Linked DNA regions of Homo sapiens: region 2 is linked to region 1. The links come from fine-mapping of genetic effects on gene expression. A gene starts in region 1. The other region holds a variant in brackets. All regions are shown on one strand. Distances are between the middles of the regions.

The links. PIP is the estimated chance that this variant, and not a neighbour inherited with it, causes the effect.
Region 2: its variant is fine-mapped to the expression of HTRA3 in whole blood (TOPMed, PIP above 0.99).

Annotation. Positions count from the first base shown.
Region 1 is chr4:8,268,207-8,270,706 of GRCh38, reverse strand. HTRA3 (HtrA serine peptidase 3) reads right to left here and starts at 953. Exons shown (of 9, transcript NM_053044.5): 1 at 354-953. The coding sequence starts at 738. It overlaps LOC105374373 (a long non-coding RNA gene), which reads left to right and starts at 526. Exons shown (of 2, transcript XR_001741572.2): 1 at 526-600; 2 at 1,311-2,101.
Region 2 is chr4:8,401,706-8,404,713 of GRCh38, reverse strand. The region is part of intron 7 of ACOX3 (acyl-CoA oxidase 3, pristanoyl); the gene reads left to right. Among named protein-coding and RNA genes, the nearest start is that of ACOX3, 38 kb to the left of the region's middle. RefSeq lists a silencer at 1,093-1,290. The variant C/T (reference allele first, on the strand shown) is at 1,755.

The sequences.
Region 1 (2,500 bases):
TGCCCTTCACTCAATACCCGGACAGAGCAGGGGTCCAAGGATCAAGGGAATGGGCACGAGACATCAGTTCTGAAGAGACCAGAGCTGGAAACAGTCCTAGATGAGGCCCCTCGGGTGGCCAGGAGACCACCGGGTTTCCCTTTTGACTCTAATTCTGTGACCTTGGGGACAGCGGTTTACCTTTCCGGGCCTCAGTTTCTTCATCTGAAAGACCAGAGGGCTGGTGGGATGATTTCTGAAGGGCCACCCGGTGGTGCCCAGGGAAGGGCGACCTCGAGCTCGGCCCTAACTCCCGGCCTTAGTTTCCCCAAGAGAAAGAAGCTTCACTTCCTCCCTGGCCCCCGAGCGCTTACCCAACGGGCAGGCGCCCTTCTGCAGCTGGCGCACGGGCGTCCCGGAGAGCTGCAGCGCGCGGCGGCTGGCCGCCTGCAGCGCGCACACGTTGGCATAGGTGTGCCCGTCGGTGCCACACACGGCGTGCGACCAGCGGCAGCGGCATAGGCCGCGCACGCACTCCAGGCTCTCGCCGCAAGGCGAGTCCAGAGGGCCGCCACAGGGCTCGCCCTCGCTGGCGGCGCACACCAGGCAGCAGTTGCAGAGGTCGGGCACGTAGCCGCCGGGGCAGCGGGGGCTGGGACACCGCGACACGTCGCAGCGCGCGGGACACGGCGCCGCAGGGGGCTCCCGGGCCAGCGCCAGCGCGGCCAACGCGGCCAGGAGCAGCGCTCGCGCCTGCATGGCGGCAGGGCCGGCGGCGGGTGGCAGCGCGGGAGACCGGGCGGGGGCCGGCGGGGACAACGAGGCCGCTGCGGGGCCGGGCGCCGGGCGCCTACGGATGGGACTGGGGCGGACGCGCGGTCACATGCGCCGGTGGCTCAGGCTGGCGGGCGTCAGGGCGGCAGGGGCATCCCCAGGGCGCAGGGAGCGCAGGGACCAGCTCCCTCCAGCCTGACGGTCCGCGGGCGGCGGGTCCCGCGCCTTTAAAGGCGACCGCCCAGCCCGCCCTCGCTGGAAGGGGCGGCCCGGCCCCTCCGCCAGCCCCGCCCAGGCCCCGACAGGGCCCCGCCTGGCCTTCCGGGCCTGGACCCACCCGGCAGGCCTTGGGACTCTGGTCGGCCTGGTCGAGAAAACCCGAGGCTACAGACACGCAGGGGTCCTTTCTGGTGGGGACCCCCGGGCCCAGCCTATCCCAGAAACGTTGGGGGATGCGTTCTCCCCGCTCTGGAGGGGTCTGTCCGTGTCCAGTCTCCTCTGTGCCTCAGTTTCCTCCTCCAGGAAAGGGGAATTGACAGCATTTCTCAACCTCATAGGGTCGTTGGAAGAACCACAGAGGCCATGGCTGAGCAGTGTTCCCGAGTCCTCGCTGTCCACGGAACCGGAAGCTGTTTCCATTCTCATCATTGCTCCTGCATTTTCTGCAGGGCCCCTTCAGACCCAGGTCCCATCACGAGAGTCAGAATCTGGTGACAGTGCGTCAGCTGATGGGGTGAAGGCTGCGGAGTTGTGAGAGAAGGCAGAACCCCCCTTGGAGGTGAATGTCAAGCCTGAAGAGGAAGGATGGGAAGCGGGAGCTGGCCGTGACCTGGGCAGAGGCTCCCAAGCAAAAGCAGGTCGGGGCAGCAGGAGATAACGCCGCGCGCACAGCCTGGAGCTGCGGTCTTCACACTGTGTGTGTTCCTAGTACCCTGGGCTGCCTGGCGAAGCCTGGGTGTCCTTTTCAGAACGATGTCGTCAAGTAGATTTAAACGCATAAAACAAAGACCATGGGGTCACAAAGGGGAACAATTCTATCAAAACACAGTTATCAAAATACATGAAACAATTCATGACAGCGTGGCCTATGGGCTTCTTTATCAGCATGTTAATGGCAGGTTCTGGTCGGTCTGTCGTCTGATACCAGTGGACACTTCGCAGCAGCCCTGTGCAGAGGGCTGCCACTGGAGACACCTTCGGTGAGGGCGGTAACATGGGGATGTAAACACTGCTTCTGCTGGCCGTGGAGCCACAGGCCCTGCTGGCTGGGGTCAACTGCACCCCCAAAGGAATGAATGCTGGACTTCAGTTGGAGTTGTTGGGGTAAATAAAGACGTTTTTCCATCCAGGTTCACAGATACCCAAGTTAAGAATGGGGAGGGGTACCTCTGGTCCAGAGGAGGGAGGGGGAGCTGGAGGTTAAAGGGCCTCGGGGAATGGGAAGGTGGAGGGGCCTGATCCCTGAGGGCCCTGGGTCCTCAAAGGCCTGGGGAGGCGTTGAGTAGGGAGCGGCCCCATCAGACAAGATGTCTGGGGAGGATGAGGTGGGAGGAGGCGGGGCGCCAAGTGTGAGCCCCCATAGGACCCAGAGAGAGTGAAAGGTTGAAGGGTCCCAGGGGACGGGGAGAGAAGGGACCTGGAGCTTCTCCCCCTAAAAGGCCCTTTGACAAGGGGCAATAGCACCTGCGTTTCTGCCTCTACAAACCTCAAGTGCACTTTACTTTGAAGATGTGGAGAATTTCAGGCC
Region 2 (3,008 bases), 130 kb before region 1:
ATGACCAGGTTGTCTCCAGAGGGAGAAGATGGGCCAGTGGGCATCTGAGCGCTCAGCGATGGAGAAACCTCCTTCTGCCTGTCTCTTCTGAGAAGTCAGGGTGATGGGCAGGGAGTGTCTTAAATCTCTGCTTGGCCCTTTAAAACAGGCAGGGCCCCAGACTGTACTAAAGAGGAAAATCTTGATTGATTTTTATACAGTGTCAACTTGAGAAGAAAGTAAAAGGACATTGTTAAAAAGCAAATTCTTGTGATTTCAGGCAAAAAAAAAAAAAAAAAGCAAAACAAGACACATATGCACAGCCCTCCTAACTCCACCTGTCCTGCAGAGTTCTGGGTTCTCACTGGCTTATACTAAAATAATACAAGGAACCTGCTAGTTAATGTTGGAGCTGGCAGGGAGGAGAGCGCCACCCCGACCTGCGGCTGTCAGTTCTCTTGAATGACTACTTTCGCAGGGTGCCTGGGAGGCGCTTGGCATGGACGGTGCCCGTGTAGCAGGTATGGAGGGTCGCTGTTCAGGCCCTTCGCCCTCAGGGCAGCGGGAAGCCCCAGCCATCTGGAGGATGTAATGCGGCTTGGTCTGTTTGAGAAGGATGGCTCTGGCCTCAGGGTGAGAAGCTCTGAAGCGCTGTGCAGGAAATGGGGTGTAGGAAGCACTGTGTTGTTCTGGAGAATCTGCATCCTTTTATTAGACCCGGCTGATCCCTTTCAGGGCTCTGCAGCCACAGGCACTGTTACCCATCTACTGAAGTGTCCTATGTGTGCACGTAAGGCCCGACAGGCATCTCCACCCGGGCATATGGCGGTGGTGAATTGTCACATCCAGTGGGTGGCCTCGGGTGTGAGCAAGGCTCTTCTTCACTGCTCATTCAGTTTCATGAATGAGAGGCTTTGACATTATTTTGGGACATTGCAGAGAAACCCTGCACTTGGTTCCCCCCTAATAAACGTATTTCTAGAGATTGAATCCACACCTCTTACTGGGATAATATTCAAAGGAGCATTAGATCAAACCATTAATGATTAATACATCACACTGATATGGTAAAGCCTCTTGTAAGACTCAGAAATACGGTCTCCTATAGGATCGCCACTAACACAATAACGACCGCCCTTTGACGCTGGTTCAGAGCTGCTCCACCAAGCCAGGTCACTGAGCCCCCAGAGCCTTTCCACCGTGTCTCTCTGCAGGGTGACAGGGATGCAGTGGGATTCGTCCATCTTTGATCCCTGAGCCTTTGAAGGCCTAGGTTGGGCTGGGATGGGAGCCAGCCGGGGTGATGCAGGCGGCCTGCTCTCCGCCCCTTTCCAGAAATGCACATTTCCCATCCAGGGCTGGAGGGTCTGGGCAGGGCACCCAGCAGGGGGCGCAGTGATACCAGTGTTCCCTCCGGGTTTCCCAGCCAGTTTCTGCCTGGATGTCTGTCTTTTCCAAGATCAGCATTATAATTTAGTGATTTTTGTTACCAATGTTGAAATCATTTATCTTGAAAAAAGTGGTTACAATTTGTAGGTTAGATTTTGTCACTTTACAAGAACTCCTGAGTATGTGGGATGACTGCCTACAAATCCAAGGTAAACGTAAATTGTGTGGATTAATTTTAGCCAAATAGCTCTAAAAGCAAAATCATAAAGATCTTCTCAAGTGATAGTTTCAGCCAGACTCTTAAGGTGGGCTGCACCTTAAGGGTCTTTCTTCGTGCGTTTGCCCTGAGCTGAGGCGGTGGCTGGGAGGATGGCTGCCGAACTCAA[C/T]GGCCTGCTCTGGCGGCTTGGCTGGGCTGGGCTTGGGGGGCCCTTCCAGGCCCCAAAGGAGGAAGGAAGCTGCTGCAATAAGAAGCAGGATGTCCAGGGCGCGGGGTGTGTGCTGAGGTCTGGGCGCTTCTGGGATTGGAGTGAGGGTTTCTGTGCCACACTCAGGCCTCCCGTGCCACGTGCATGTCCAGTGACACACACACACAACTCCTGTGCTGTGCACACACACACCTGTGACACACGCACACGTCTCCCGCTGGAGACACTGGATCTGGCTTGTATTTGAGTTGGCCACATGTGACCACCACTGTAATAGCTTTTGTGGAACAGAAGGGATCCCCTGAGAATTCGTGGAAGTTTGCTTTCCTTTGAAACTCACGGGAATGTTTTTGCAAGTATAAATATATTCTGTGTGGTGAGAATGGGGGAATAATTTCCACTCCTTAAAAAGGGCGCTGACTGTGACCGGATCATACTGGAAAAGGCATTCCTTGGCTTTCAAGTAACAGGCTGGAGCACGCTGGGGCCATTGGCACCGAGGCAAGGTTTTTCTCACGAGGTGGGGTGTTCTGAGTGTGCGGCTGTGGCATGGGGGAAGCTGCTACCAAACTGGGCAGCTGGGCCTAGGGCTTTGGAGGAGCTGGCCCCCCCGCTGCCCTTCACTTCCTGCAGGTGGGCAGGGGCCTGGCAAAGCAGCCGAGAGCTCTTCCCTCACCAGGTCACCCAGGTTTCCCTAAGGAGCTCCAGCCCCGTCCCCACCCGGCCCCAGGGCCTTGCTCCTCCTGGTAGTGTGGAAACTGTCGCTGTGTCTTTCCCTCAGGCTGTCCTGGGAGTCAGGATCATGGCCTGGCCCTTGTGCCTCAGAGGATGTCGTCTGCCCCACCTGACTTGTTCATACCATGCCACTTACGTGCCCGTCCCTTAAGTCTGGCAGGCCCCATGCACGGTGGCCCCCTCATGGAGGGGGGTGAGCCCCGGGAGACTGCTGAGAGGCAGCTAGCTCACCCAGGAACCAGGAACGTTGATGGTTGAGGGATCCCACCCTGGGGTCCGCCTCATACCCTTCCCAGGGTGGGGCATAGAATTCCCAGGTGGGCCGAGGGCTGCCTGGTGTCAACAGTGACTGCATGGAGGGCATGAGGCCAGGAGAGAACCTGGTGGACGGGGCACCACAGGCAGGCAGGACCACCTCATGGCAAGGCGGTGATGCTGTTAGAGGGGCAGATGGGGCACCACAGGCAGGTGGGACCACCT